Linked DNA regions of Homo sapiens. The protein of the gene in region 2 interacts with the protein of the main gene of each other region in a biochemical or structural test. Each region holds a gene or a part of one and is shown on either strand. Other genes may lie near its edges.

Region 1 (7,025 bases), on a different chromosome or scaffold from region 2:
AGTAAAACTTCATCTGTTTTGTTCACTGCTGAATCTCCAATGTGTCAGGGTGTTTTGCCCTCTAGAGTAAGCACCCAAATACTTATTGAAAGAATTAATGAATGACTAGGTATTAGCTAGGAACAGTATTTCAGAATGAACAACGCTCAATGTCACAAAATTCTAATCTGGTTTATTTTTGAAAATACAAGAGAGAAACATTCACAGCACCATTATCTGGGAGTCTAACATTATAAGGATTATTAAAGGGGCTTAGTATGAATTTTAAAGCCTAAGAACAGTTATATATTAAGAGGCAGAGTCCCACTCTGTTACCCAGGCTGGAGTGCAGTGGTGTGATTTTGGCTCGCTGCAACCTCGGTCTCCTGTGTTGAAGTGTTTCTTGCACCTCAGCCTCCCAAGTAGCTGGGATTACAGGCGCCTGCCACCACGCCCAGCTAATTTTTGCATTTTCAGTAGAGACGGGGTTTTACCATGTTGGCTAGGCTGGTCTCAAACTCCTGGCCTCAAGTGATCTGCCCGCCTTGGCCTCCCAAGGTGCTGGGATTACAGGCATCAGCCATTGCACCCGGCCTGACTATAATAATTTTAAAAGCTATAAAGCTTAATTAGAAGCCAGGCAGTCAGGAGAGGCCCTCTCAGAGACCCCGGTCCCGGTCCCAAACACCTTTACTTCCACACAGGCATGTGTGGTATGTTTTCTTTACATTTGATTTTCTTCCTTTTTTATTGTCTGACTCACTCTCTAAGTTTCTCAAGTCAGAGCTGTGACTCATTCAATCCCGCCTCCCCAGAATCTGGTATGCTGTCTGGCATATAATGATACTCAATATCAATAAATGTTTGCTGGTTGAAGAAATGGCAGTATCAGGCCAGGCGTGGTGGCTCATGCCTGTAATCCCAGCACTTTGGAAGGCTGAGACAGGCGGATCACGAGGTCAGGAGATCGAGATCATCCTGGCCAACGTGGTGAAACCCTGTCTCTACTAAAAATACAAAAATTAGCTGGGCGTGGTGGTGCGCGCCTGTAATCCCAGCTACTCGAGAGGCTGAGGCAGGAGAATTGCTTGAACCTGGGAGGCGGAGGTTACAGTGAGCCGAGATCGCGCCACGGCACTCCAGCCTGGCAATAGGGCCAGACTCCGTCTCAAAAAAAAAAAAAAAAAAGGCAGTATTTCCTATTGTAAACTCTAATCTACTGGGTCCAAAATATTGGACACTGTTGCCATATAATTAACATACCTGGCTGGGCGCGGTGGCTCACGCCTATAATCCCAGCACTTTGGGAGGCCGAGGCGGGCGGATCACGAGGTCAGGAGATCGAGACCATCCTGGCTAACACGGTGAAACCCCGTCTCTACTAAAAATACAAAAAATTAGCCGGGCAAGGTGGCGGCTGCCTGTAGTCCCAGCTACTCGGGAGGCTGAGGCAAGAGAATGGCGTGAACCCCAGGGGGCGGAGCCTGCAGTGAGCCGAGATTGCGCCACTGCACTCCAGCCAGGGCGACAGTGAGACTCTGGCACAAAAAAAAAAAAAAAAAAAAAATTAACATACCTAAGGTTTTTTATTTTGAGATAAGTAAAATTTGGTAACCATTTCTAATTTATTTTTAGAGATGGAGTCTCACTCTGTCACCCAGGCTGGAGTGCAATGGCGCAATCTCGGCTCACTTCAACCTTCACCTTCTGGGTTCAAGCGATTCTCCCGCCTCAGCCTCCCGAGTGGCTGGGATTACAGGCACGCGCCACGACACCCAGTTAATTCTCATATGTTTAGTAGAGACGGGGTTTCACCATGTTGGCCAGGCTGGTCTCAGACTCCTGACCTCAAGTGATCCACCTGCCTCAGCCTCCCAAAGTGCTGGGATTACAGGCATGAGCCACCACACCCAGCCTAGTTTTATTTTTAATAAATGAGAATTTTAGGAAAACTTACCATTTTTTTTAAAATAAGGGAAAACTGGTTTCTCACCCAAATCACATAAGTCAAAGAATTCTTCACTATAAAATGAACTTTGTTTCATAAAGTATGTATGAAAGCAAGTTACTAATATTTCAAACCATTTAAAAACTGCATACAAAGTTACATCAATATTTTCTACAAAACAAAAGAGCATTTAATTCCAAATGGCCTAATCACACCCTAGTTATAGAATTCAGGGTCTACTCCAGGGACATAAGTCCAAATATGGTTGGAATTCAGAGATCCTGCAGACTTCAGGATGTATCAGTGACAAGCGAAAAGCTCATCCTATCCTAAATAGAGTTTAAATTCAAAATCACGGTACATTAAACAAAACATTTTAGTGAATATATTAAAAAATTAAACGTACATATGCCAAAGAACAGAAGCACAACAGATGAGAAAACCCAAGAATACTCTAACATATGTTTTGGTCCTCTAGCACTTTAATCAATTGAATCAACATAAAATTTTAGGATTCCCAATATTTCTGTGTGAATCTGACACCAAAAAGGCAGCTGGAGAAACAGCATCAAGTGACAATATGGAAGACATAAAAATGGACTCTTACAGGCCAGGCGCAGTGGCTCACACCTGTAATCTCAGTACTTTGAGAGGCCGAGGTGGGAGTTTGAGACCAGCCTGGCCAACATGGTGAAACCCCATCTCTATTAAAAATACAAAAATTAGCCAGTTGTGGTGGCACATGCCTGCAATCCCAGCTAATTGGGAGGCTGAGGCATGACAATCACTTGAACCCGGGAGGTGGAGGTTTCAGTGAGCTGCGATCATGCCACTGCAGCCCAGCCTGGGCAACAGAGACTCGTCAAAAAAAACAAAAAACAAAAAAACAAAAAAACAAAAAACAAACAAACAAAAGGACTCTTATAATCTTGCAAAACCAAGAGAACTACAGGCTCTATAATAGCTAGGAAGTACACTAGGAAAATCTATAGCTAATGATAAGTATAATCAAATAGACTATGACTATTAAAAAGTGAATTATGAAAATGCTAAAAAAAAAAACTTCATCAAGGTGCTAAAATATCACAGTAATCCAAGACTTTTTGAAGAAAATATTTGTTCCTATTATTTCAGAATTATTCTTTCCAGAAGGCTTTTTCCTGGACCTGTGTCAGTATCAAAAGTCAGCCGGTTATTCTCTTAGCTAAATATAAACTGAAAAGACAGCAGTTGCAGGATATTACAAAGAAAATATGGCAACCAGGTTGAAAAAGCATGAATATTTGATAGAGCTTTACACCATGCCACAGTAAAACATTTAATGCAGTAATCTGAAACACAGCAACATATTAATATATTTGTGGTACAAAAAGGATTCTGAAGTCGTTTAAAACATCTTTTGGGAAAATCATGGCCACCAAGCAGCAGCTACCACAGCATGTCAATCTTGGAAAACCCTGGCCTAGGTCTTGAATTAAAATGGTAGAGCTGGCTGGGCGTGGTGGCTCACACCTGTAATCCCAACACTTTGGGAGGCAGAGATGGGTGGATCACCTGAGGTCGGGAGTTCGAGAACAGCCTGACCAAGATGGAGAAACCCCGTCTCCACTAAAAATACAAAATTAGCTGGGCGTGGTGGCGCATGCCTGTAATCGAGCTACTCAGGGGGCTGAGGCAGGAGAATCACTTGAACCTGAACCTGGGAGGCAGAGGTTGCGGTGAGCCAAGATAGCACCATTGCACTCCAGCCTGGGCAACAAGAGTGAAACTCTGTTTCAAAACCAAAAACAACAACAACAACAACAACAACAACAACAAAAAAAAAAAAACAAAAAAAAGGTAGAACCTCAGAGGTTTCTCCTGAAAAGAAAGCTGCTAGTTAAAAATGGTTTGGTTGCCCATTCAGGGAAGACAGTGAACTGAGCTAGGAATCTGATGCTGCTCCCACTTCAGAAAATGAGGAGGTATGGAAGGTGATGCACTGGGATTCAACGTCCCTGAAAACTGGACATAGAGCCATAAGCAAGTAACTTTTATTTCTGAGCAACCGCCCAAGTGTAGTCTGGCTGTCTAGTTAGCCTGCCCAGGAGATCTGTTCTTCTCCTTCTCTAGAGCAATGGTTCTCCAAGTTAGTCCCCAGACCTCATCGCAAACTCGCTAGAAATGTACATTCTCAGGTCTTCAGCCCAGAATTCCTGAATCTGAAACTCCAAGGTTGGGCCTAAGAATCTGACAAGCCCTCCAGGACTCTGAGGTATACTAGTTTGAGATCCATTGCTCTAGGGGAATTCTAGGGAAAGAATTAGTAGCAAGCTGTCATTCTTTACAGTCCAGCCACGTGACAACAGCTAGTGACAGAATGCAAGACCCTGTGTTCTGCTGCTAGGGTCAGTGACCAAGACCAAGCATCAGATTTTCTTTGACAAAGGGGGAAACAAGATGTGGGAAATGAGTCAGGACAACTGGAGAAGGGGAGGATGGTTAATTCTACGATCAAGTACCTCTATAAATACCACCAAATAAGGATAAGAGTTTCAGTTTTTTGAAAGGCTGAATAGCCACTTTTGCTTCTGCCCTATCGGATACATTGTTTCTCCACAAATTGTCAAATGTATCCATTTGGCTACATCAAAGAGATTCTGAATTAACTCACTGCAACATTCACAAATATTTACTGAGTACCTACTATTTTGTCCAGAACTGTGCTGGTGCTAGGGACACAACAGAAGTTGAGATAGAATCTTGCCCTAGTGAAAAGGCATAGAAAATATGCAACGAAACAACACTTCAGGTAAGGTTAAGTGCTTTAGAGAAACAGAACAAAACAAGAAGCTGTGACAATGACTAAAAAACTATTGAATGGAGTGCTCAGGGACGGCCTTTCTGGGTAGCTGCGACCTGAAGAACAGCAGTCAGGCCCATGAAGATCTGGGGACAGAGCAAGATCAGAGGTGTGTGACACCACATGAAGTCAAGGCGGCAGGGCCTTGTGGGCCATGGAAAAGGGATGGGTTATTCTGTAATAAGAGCAGTGGGAAGGGCTTGCTGAAGGGGAGTGGCAGTTTCTATTTTACGTCTGTGAAAGATCATTCTGTCTCCTGTATAGAAAATGGAAAGGGCAAGACTGAAAGCAAGAGGCTTTTTCCATCTTCCAGGCAAGAGAAAGACGGTTCTGGTTAGATTAGGATGACAAGAGTGGAGACAGAAAGGAGGATTTGGCATTTAGTTTGGGGTTACACCTACTGGACTTGTGACAGGGTGGATGTGAAGATGAGGAAAGACTACTACTTGAGAGGTCACTGCCATCTACCCATGAATAAGCTAATCAGCCAAGGCAGAAATAACAGACATGCCAATGGCTGAAGATGCTTGCGAGGCCTACCTCAGAGAATAAGAAATGGGGGCTGGAAGAACGATCATCCGGCCAAGAGCACGTGTCCTGAAGCAACACCATCCCAGAGCACCCAGGCTCTGCACCTCAGGCTAGTCACTCCTCTCCTGGCCTGTTTCCTCACCTTCACAATCGATACCTGCCTCAATGGGCTGTTGTGACAAGTGAGATAATGTAGTTAATACAGTGTCTAGCACTTAGTAAACCCAAGAGTGCAACTTAAAAAGAAGTCTGATGGCTTGCATGTAAATAAGGATGAGGTACTACTTTGTACCTGCCATGATGGGGCTCCAAGCCCAAGAGGTGTGAGTCATTCAGTATAAAATATAAGCAAGAGCTTCCTGAAAAAAGGACCTCACTCTCCTTGGACAGCACATAACCCAGAAGAGGACAAACAGTGGCCAGAGATGCTATAAAAAGGGTTCCTGAAACGGGTAGCAGTAGACACTTCTTACTAAAGCCCTTTCTCTCTCCAAGATTAAACACTCCAAGACTTAGGAAGAACATATCCCTAAATCCATGCCTTTTCCATTTCCTGCAGGCTGGTGAGGGAACAGGAGTTAAAAATGCCTGGGCTCTAGTCCGAGCATCACCAGTCTCCCTTGGCTTTTGGCTCCTCCCTCAGTAATGTGGGTGGATACTGCCCCTGGCTGGTGACCAGGCTGTGGAGAGTTAGATGAGACAACATCACAGGTAAGTCGAAGTCTATGGGACACTCTAAAGCACTATCCACAATACAACAGTAATAGTATTCAAACATTTACTTTGCCAAATGTGCTGCTCTGAACTTCACTGTGCCCCTTCAAAATTAAGCAGAGGATTCCTGACTTCATATTTTGTATTCTACTTTTACCAAATTACTGCAGAGCTACAATTTGTGGGGAGGTGGGAGGGATAGAGATATGAAGAGAAAAGAGAATGTGGTGGGGGAAATAGAGTGGTTTTCAGTTAACATGAAGGGGGAAAATCATGATCATCAAAATTAACCTTGGTAATCCCTTAAGAAAATAATAGCTTGCAGCCCGGCACGGTGACTTACGCCTGTAATCCCAGGACTTTGGGAGGCTGAGACGGGCGGATCATGAGGTCAGGAGTTTGAGACCAGACTGACCAACATGGTGAAACCCTGTCTCTACTAAAAATACAAAAATTAGCCAGGCGTGGTGGCGCGTGCCTGTGATCCCAGCTACTCAGGAGGCTGAGGCAGGAGAATCGCTTGAACCTGGGAAGCAGAGGTTACAGTGAGCCAAGATCACGCCACTGCACTCCAGCCAGGTGACAGGGCGAAACTCCGTCTCAAAAAAAAAAAAAAAAAAAAAGCTTGCACTAGCCCAACAAAGCCAGTTTCCCCTCCATCACTGGAGCAGGCTGCTATTTCTTTGGCTGAGCACAATATGAAGCTGTTCTTTGAATGTAGGGCCCATGTTGTACAAAAGGCACTTAATTACAATTGGCATAAGATGCTCACACAGTGAGACATACAGGAACTGAGAAGAACTAAGGGACTGTGAGTTTTCATCCATTTCCAGCTCTCTCTGGGGAAGACTCTTGAATGGAAGGGAAGACTAATCTCTGCTGCCCACATGGTTAAGTTTTTATAAGCTGAATGTGCATATGAGGCCACTCCGATGTATGCAAATTTAAAATCATGCCCCACCAGGGCTTACCCCTCTGGCACTCATTTTCTGATTAAATGTCAGGGAAGCT
Region 2 (7,587 bases):
AGTCTGTGGGGTGCGGCCTGTGGGGTGCGAGGAGAGGGGCACAGGCTGGGAGCTCCGGTCAGTCCTGGCCCTCCTAAAGGGCTTGAGTTCAGCTGCCTTATCAGGGAACCAAGCCAAACCAGCACAGACCTAAGGATCACCCCATGGATGGAAGCCCACCCTTCTTCAGCCAGTCTACAACTCCTGGTATCCGGGAAGGTCTGTGCACACACAAGGTGTGCACACACACACACACACACACACACACAAGGCGTGCACACACAGCTACAGAGTGAGCTGAGTAGTCACAGCCAAGCACATGTGTGCTTCTAGGAGGCCTGCTGGGCACGGGAGGCAAAGACCATAAGTGGGAGAAAGGACAGCCTGAGTTTCATGAACTAAAAATATCTTGGTGACAACGCATTGGGAAGAAACAGGAGAGGCCCGGGGGGCAGCTTCTTGATTCCAGTCCTCAGACACTTTCTCATGGAAAAATCCTTCAGACTGCAGGATTGTTTTGATAAGGAAATGTGATCAAACATTAGGGGTCATTTCATTGGATCTGAAAGGAATTTAAAGTTGAATATGCCTCATCTGTGTTCACTCTTTTTTTTCTGCAGCAGTTGCCTGCAATTCATATATGTTTTTAGAAGCTAATTTAAAATTGCCTGCAGAAGAAAAATGATTTGAATTCAGGATATTCCTGAGATTTCCATTCTACAACGTGTAAAACAAAGATTTCATTTAGACAAACTACCCCACCATAATCTTTCTGAATGCCTGTTGAAGAATGCCTGCAGATATGACTGTCTTCTCCTCTTCTTTTTCTTTTCAGAGCATTTGAAAGTCACTAACTCCTTAATCCCAGGAGAAGCAGGCTTTAACATTTCCTGTCTCTACACCTTCCAAAAATGAGTAACCCTGAGTTAAGAACCTTTCTATCCGACATGTTGGTACATTACTCAGACCTCACTTCTGTTTAACCCACCCCATGCAAGGAACAGAGCAGAGTAACTACATTATCCATCTTTTGATGCTCCATCATGGAGTGACTGGTAGCTGCAGCAGCAGATTAAGAATGACTGTGGTGTGTGGCCTTTAAGGATTAGAGCGAGGCTGGCAAGTGCACAACAGTTAGCCTGCTTTCAGATAATGGTGCATCGTTGTTTGAAAATAAAATCAGGAACTCATTGCAGGTGAAATATCTTGAAATTCCTGTCCTTTCATCCCAGGGGAATAGAGAGAAATGCCTAAAAACATGACACGGACTACACCAGGACATCCCACAGAAACCAAAAGTCCTGCACCAGCCCATCCCAGTCAGCTAGGGCCTGTTTGAACTGTATTGATGGCAAGTAATTGCCAAAAAGAAACAATGACAATTTTTTTTTAAGTCACGGTCTGGAAAAAGTTAAGGATTCTGTGTATCCGCCATCTAATAATGTCTCTAATCACAGTCATCACCCTTACATGGTATTAGGATGTGTTTCATAGTTTCCCTTCCCCTCCCATTAAAGGCCCCACACACAGTGACTGGTCCAGCTGAGGAGTGGTTTCCAGGTCCAGCTACAGCAGTAACTCTGGCTTCTGGAGCTGGGCTTGTCTGCCAGTTCTCTGGCCTGCCTTGACTCTGTGGACAATAGCACAGACTATCCTTCCTGGGTAACCCAAATGGGACATGAACTAATTCGAGAAACTCCCTGTTTTCTCCTATTTGGCTAGAGCCAGTAATAAGGCCTCAATTCCAGGCAGCCCTCCCGCAGAGACACGTGTCTCCCAGCCTTTCGCCCTGACTGCTGCTTTACCTCTTGCCTTGAGAGCAGACGAGTGAAACAGAAATCAAAGCAGTTGACATGGAAGGGGGGTGAGCACCTACTAGGCATTTGGTAGCATGCTGGATTCTGGGAGGTAGAAAAATATCAGGAAACAAAGTCCTTTCCTCAAGGGGGTAACCAACTGGTAGTGGGAGGTAAAATTAAAATATGTGAATAATCGGTAAACAAAACAAGTCTTGAAGACCACCCATTACCACTACCCCTCTGGGACTATCCTGGCTTTGTTTTATAAGGGAATTTGACACACTCATGTTAGATCACCACCCCCCATCAATTTACTGATGAAGAAATCCAGGCTTAGTGGAGTCAGAGTGAATTGCCTAAGTCATGGAACCACAAGAAGTGAAGAACTTGAAACCAAGTTTCTTGTCCTTTTAAAAAATTTGGCCTCTTGTTCTCCTGTTCCTTTAAAAAAAAAAAAATCCCCCTATTCTAAGATACCATCTTGAACTTGAAAGTCACAAGAAGCTTGATTAGCTTCTAAGATCAAGTTCTGGCATTTCTCCCCCTTGTTCCCAAAGGCTCCGTCCAGCGCCAGGCTGGGAGGGCTGGAGGGCGGCTGCGGAGAGGGGCCGGGAGGCGGCTCACAGCCAGCACAGAGCTCAGCAGAACTTCCTGGCCCAAAAATGTGCTGTTGATTTTTTTCCCCCCTGCACGAAACAAGGATTGAGAAAACTGCCACTGACGTGTTCTGGGGCTGAAAGCCAATTACTTAATCTTTGCCATCCCTGGCTCTCTCTTTGGAGAAGTGGGGCTTGAATTCTTGAGAGAAACTTGTGGGGACACTAAGTACCCAAACGAATGGTTCCCAGGCAGCTCCGAGCTGTCCCCGTGTGCGAGCCTCCTCTCCTCAAAGGGTTAACCCGGCGGGGCTCGCTGGCCTGAAATACTATACTAGCAACACATCCTTGCAGCACAAACTTCACTGTCATTTTCTCAGCTAAGATGGTCTCTGTGCGAACAAGTTAAAGGAGGGGAGACGAACACAGAGGAAAGTAGAGGCAGAATGTTTCAGTAAAGGAGAAACAGCGTGCTTTGGGAAATAGGTCAGAGGTGAAGAAATAAGACCAGGCAAGTGGCAACTCCGAATAACTTACCTTAGATCCACCACGGACAGACAGACTGGGCCCGGAGGGTAGTCGGCTCTCGGCGGCTTCTCGTCTCCCTCCACCTTCTCCGGGCCCAGGTAAGTAGAAGAACAGGCTCTGAAGCAGGAAGTGGAAGCTGTATGCAAATTTCTACGGAGCCTAGGAAGCCTCTGCTCAAAATCTCCCTGTGGGCAGTGAATCAACGGCTGAGGAGTCACTTTATTTCTTAAAACAGAAACCTCCTTCATTCATGAGAAAGGGCCAGTGACCAATTAGGCGGCATTTTTGTTTTCGCCACCCAGCTAAGAAGCTGCCCAGGAGTGGGCAGAACCTCAGTGTAGTCGCAGTGCCCTCGCCTGGGAGGGTGTCTCCGGGAGGAGATTGAACTCGAATGTTAAGAATTAGTAATCATTAGCAGCTCCAAAGGAGGGGATTGTGGGCAGATAATGGGGAAGAAGAGGGAGTCGAGCTTCTTCCACCTCCTCTAACTGCTTAAAACATCAGCATTGCCGAGCGCGGTGACTCACGCCTGTAATCCCAGCACTTTAGGAGGCCGAGGCGGGAGGATCACGAGGTCAGGAGATCGAGACCATCCTGGCTAACAAGGTGAAACCCCGTCTCTACTAAAAAATACAAAAATTAGCCGGGCGTAGTGGCGGACGCCTGTAGTCCCAGCTACTCGGGAGGCTGAGGCAGGAGAATGGCGTGAACCCGGGAGGTGGAGCTTGCAGTGAGCCGAGATCGCCACTGCACTCCAGACTGGGCGACAGAGCGAAGACTCCGTCTCAAAAAAAAAATTTAAAAAAACCCAAAAAATCAGTATTTGCTGCCCATAACCACTGGGGGGGTGGGGGGGGGCTCACTGACCATGCTCCTGGACACACGTGTACACACAGCATACACATGCCTGTGGCTTGTGCACACACACCACCCTATTGTCAGGCACAAAAAAAGTGGTTAATTTTAAGAACACACACACACACATACATACACATGCACACATGCACACTAACCTCCTCTGGCTGCATTTTCCTGACCTCAAGATTTTTTTTCTCCCCTTTCCTTCCCATTGTTTAATCAGTAGCCTGCAGAATTTATTGCATGAAGGAGCGCTGCAGGCAGGATGATACCCAGCGATGTGAACAGAGAGAGAGAGAGACAACTGCCTTTCGGGGCAGCAGTCAGTAATGGGAGCAGTGTTAGCTGGAGCTTTGGAGTCAGGAGGACCTGGGTACGAACTCAGCCATGTCACTGGCCAGCTGGGCGCCCTGGGCAGACACACCATGCTCCTGGTGCTGGACTTGTCTGCCTGTTGAAGGGGTCCAAGTGTCAGTCCACTCAGCCGGCTATCTCTCTACTCTCATCAAGGGGACAGGCCCCAGAGCATCCCTGTTCAGATTGTACCAGGTTCTGCTCAAGCAGGATACAGGAAGCAGGTTGCTCAACATTCCACAAGCAGAGAAAATGCAGCTTGTTTTTAACACAGTATACACAGGTTGTTTGCATTTGGTTTGCAGAAAATGATGCAGCTATTAAAAATCATCAATATGTATGTATTATCTGAGCCACTAACATGAAAAAGTGGCTCTGAGATATTATTTAACTAAAAGTATTATCTTATTTTTTGCCAATATATGTGACATATACACACACATAGATATGTATATCGATTTTTTTTAAGAGACAGTGTCTCAGTCTATTGCCCAGGCTGGAGTGCAGTGGCGCAATCATAGCTCACTGCAGCCTTGACCTCCTGGGCTCAAACAATCCTCCTGCCTCAGTCTCCCGGGTAGGTGGGACTACAGGTGCACACCGCCACACCTAGCTAATTTTTAAATTTTTTCTAGAGACAGGTCTCCCTGTGTTGCTGAGGCTGGTCTTGAACTCCTGGTCTCAAGGGATCCTCCCACCTTGTGAGCAGCAAGCCACCCAGGTGCCGAGGCAAGAGACCGAGGACACGAGCTGTTCCAGTACAATAAAATATAAAACAAGAATAGTTATACCAGATATAGATCTTAGATATGATTATATATGAATATCATTAATCATTAGTTTGTAGCAATTACTCTTTATTCCAATATTACAATAAACCTTGCTCTATAATCATAACCTAGGAAAAACCAGGCCATACGAGATAAGAGCTGAGGGGACACAGTGAGAAGTGACCAAAAGACAAGAGTGCGAGCCTTCCGTTATGCCCAGACAGAGCCACCAGAAGGGCTCCTTGGCCTAGCGGCGATGCCAGCATCTGGGAAGACGCCTGTTGCCAGGCGGACCGTGGTCTAGTGGTAGCGAAAAGCGTCAAGGAACAACACCCGCTACTTAGCAGACGGGGAAAGGGGTTCCCGGGGGAGTTTAGAAAAGACTGCCCCTCCACCTCTTGTGGAGGGCCTGACAGCAGTCAGCCTTGCCCACAGTTATCCGGAGGCCTAACCGTCTCCCTGTGATGCTGTGCTTCAGTGGTCACGCTCCTAGTCCGCCTTCATGTTCCATCCTGTACAGCTGGCTCTGCCTTCTAGATAGCAGTAGTAAATTAGTGAAAGTACTAAAAGTCTCTGATCTACAAAAATAATGGCATAAACTGTCTTTCTCTTTGTCTCCTCTCTCTCTCTGCCTTGGCTGCCAGGCAGGGAAGGTTCCCCTGTCCAGTGGACACGTGACCCACGTGACCTTACCTATCATTGGAGATGACTCACACTCTTTACCCTGCCCCTTTTGCTTTGTATCCAATAAATAACAGCGCAGCCAGACATTCGGGGCCACTACCGGTCTCCGCGCATTGGTGGTAGTGGTCCCCGGGGCCCAGCTGTCTTTTCTTCTATCTCTTCGTCTTGTGTCTTTATTTCTACACTCTCTCGTCTCCACACACGGAGAGAGACCCACTGACCCTGTGGGGCTGGACCCTACACCACCTCAGCCTCCCAAAATGCTGGGATTGCACGTGTGCCTCACTGCACCCAGCCCAACATATAGATTTGTGTTTGCTCACCACTGGGCCCCAGGGGACCTAGCACACTGCCCTGCCTAGGACATTGTGGGCAATCACTGTGTATCTGTTCAGTGACCAAGTTAGAAATATCTGGAAAGATGTATGCCAAACTGTTTAGTGGTGCTCACTTCAAGGGAATGCGATTGAGGAAAATAAATAAGGATAGAGGGCTTTATGATATATACATATGGACTATTTGATTCTTTTTTTCACAATAACATGTAGGACTTTTTCATTTAAAAGAATGAAGTTTTTTAAAAAAGTTTTATTACCTTGGCTTTGAAGTTTCTGCTTCAAAATTATTATTAGAGTCATCTTTTGGAGGGTAGGAAAAAATAGCATTTTCTGTGGTCCGGTTGGTACCAGGATACTTTGAGAGAGCTACTGGAGTTAGGAAATGGGAACGGAAAAGCAAAGAAGAATGGCAAGGGGAGGAGCTAGCAGGGAGAGCGAGGGGAGCAGGAATGGAAATATTTTTCATTTCTCTTTGTTGTCCTTAAATGGATTGGGAAAGGCCTGAAGATGCTCTGCCGAGTACCACCTCTGAAATACAACCCGCCAGGGAGAACAAAGGGAAACTTTTCTCCAGTTCTCCACCAACTGTTTTCCTGGGTGTGAGACCTAAGAGCCCTGTAGGAAGAACACAAGTGCCGAAGTGCTGCTTTTCATTGCTGTTGGCTGGGCCTTCCTCTTGTCTACAGTTTGTTTGTTTGTTTGTTTGAAACGGAGTCTTGCTTTGTCTCCCAGGCTGGAGTGCAATGGCACGATGTCGGCTGACCGCAACCTCTGCATCCTGGGTTCAAGCAATTCTCTCACCTCAGCCTCCCGAGTAGCTGGGATTACAGGTGCCTGCCACCACACCCAGCTAATTTTCTTGTATTTTAAGTGGAGACGGGGTTTCACCATGTTGACCAGGCTGATCTCAAACTCCTGACCTCAGGTGATCCGCTCGCCTCCTGTCTAAATTTATCATGAGCAGAAAGGCAGGCACTTCAGGGAATGAGTTCATGGTTCCCTCTTAGAAGCCTCTGCTGGGGCTCCGGGCTGAAAAGCAGCCTGAGGATGGCCACTGTTTAGAGAGGGTGTCCTGAACAGGAGAAATCTCCTCTGAACCTGCCTGAGGCAGTTATGGTGAAGTACAGGTGACCCAGGCGAACACACACAGCTTTTGAATTGCTGTCACGGGAGAGCAACTCTTCACTGAGGACCTACCCTACACTCCCTTTGAGCATATCTCATCCTCCAAACAGTCCTGTGAGGTGTGTTTACTGTCATTCCCACTTTAACTTTGAGGACTCTGAGGCTCAGAGATACTGAGTAACTTCTGCAAGGTCACACAGCTCATCTATGGAGGAGTCAAGCCCAGAGCAGTCTCCCTTCCAGGTGGATGTTATTACTGCCCCCTCCCTGCACCCCGCCACAGCCCCCCAACCCCTACCCTCCATTGCCCTGTTGCCATCTGTTCTTCCTACATGCTTGGGTGGAGCACAGGTAACACACTTTCTTTGCACAACTCTTGACAACGCTTAAGAAGGGAAAAAAAGGTGTAGACAATAAAAGGGTGGGGTTGTGACTGTGCCACAGCCTGGTGCTGTGTTTATATGTAAGGATTGCTGTACAGATCATAAATAGAATAGTCAAGATGTGGGTCAGTCTTCTCTCTCTTGTTAGAAATCTAGAAGGGGAGCATGTGTGT

The links. Proteins that work in one complex are often made in the same cells at the same time.
Region 1: the proteins of TRAF3IP2 (region 2) and UBE2V1 form a complex in vitro, tested with the Homo sapiens proteins (one study listed by BioGRID).

What each region holds. Positions count from the first base shown.
Region 1 is NC_000020.11:50,103,132-50,110,156, forward strand, and holds part of UBE2V1 (ubiquitin-conjugating enzyme E2 variant 1), read right to left. Parts: intron 5,981-7,025; exon of another isoform or gene 5,842-5,980; intron 1,361-5,841; exon of another isoform or gene 1,243-1,360; intron 1-1,242. UniProt on the Homo sapiens protein: Has no ubiquitin ligase activity on its own. The UBE2V1-UBE2N heterodimer catalyzes the synthesis of non-canonical poly-ubiquitin chains that are linked through Lys-63.
Region 2 is NC_000006.12:111,602,865-111,610,451, forward strand, and holds the start of TRAF3IP2 (E3 ubiquitin ligase TRAF3IP2), read right to left. Parts: upstream 3,015-7,587; 5' UTR 2,912-3,014; intron 1-2,911. UniProt on the Homo sapiens protein: E3 ubiquitin ligase that catalyzes 'Lys-63'-linked polyubiquitination of target protein, enhancing protein-protein interaction and cell signaling. Transfers ubiquitin from E2 ubiquitin-conjugating enzyme UBE2V1-UBE2N to substrate protein.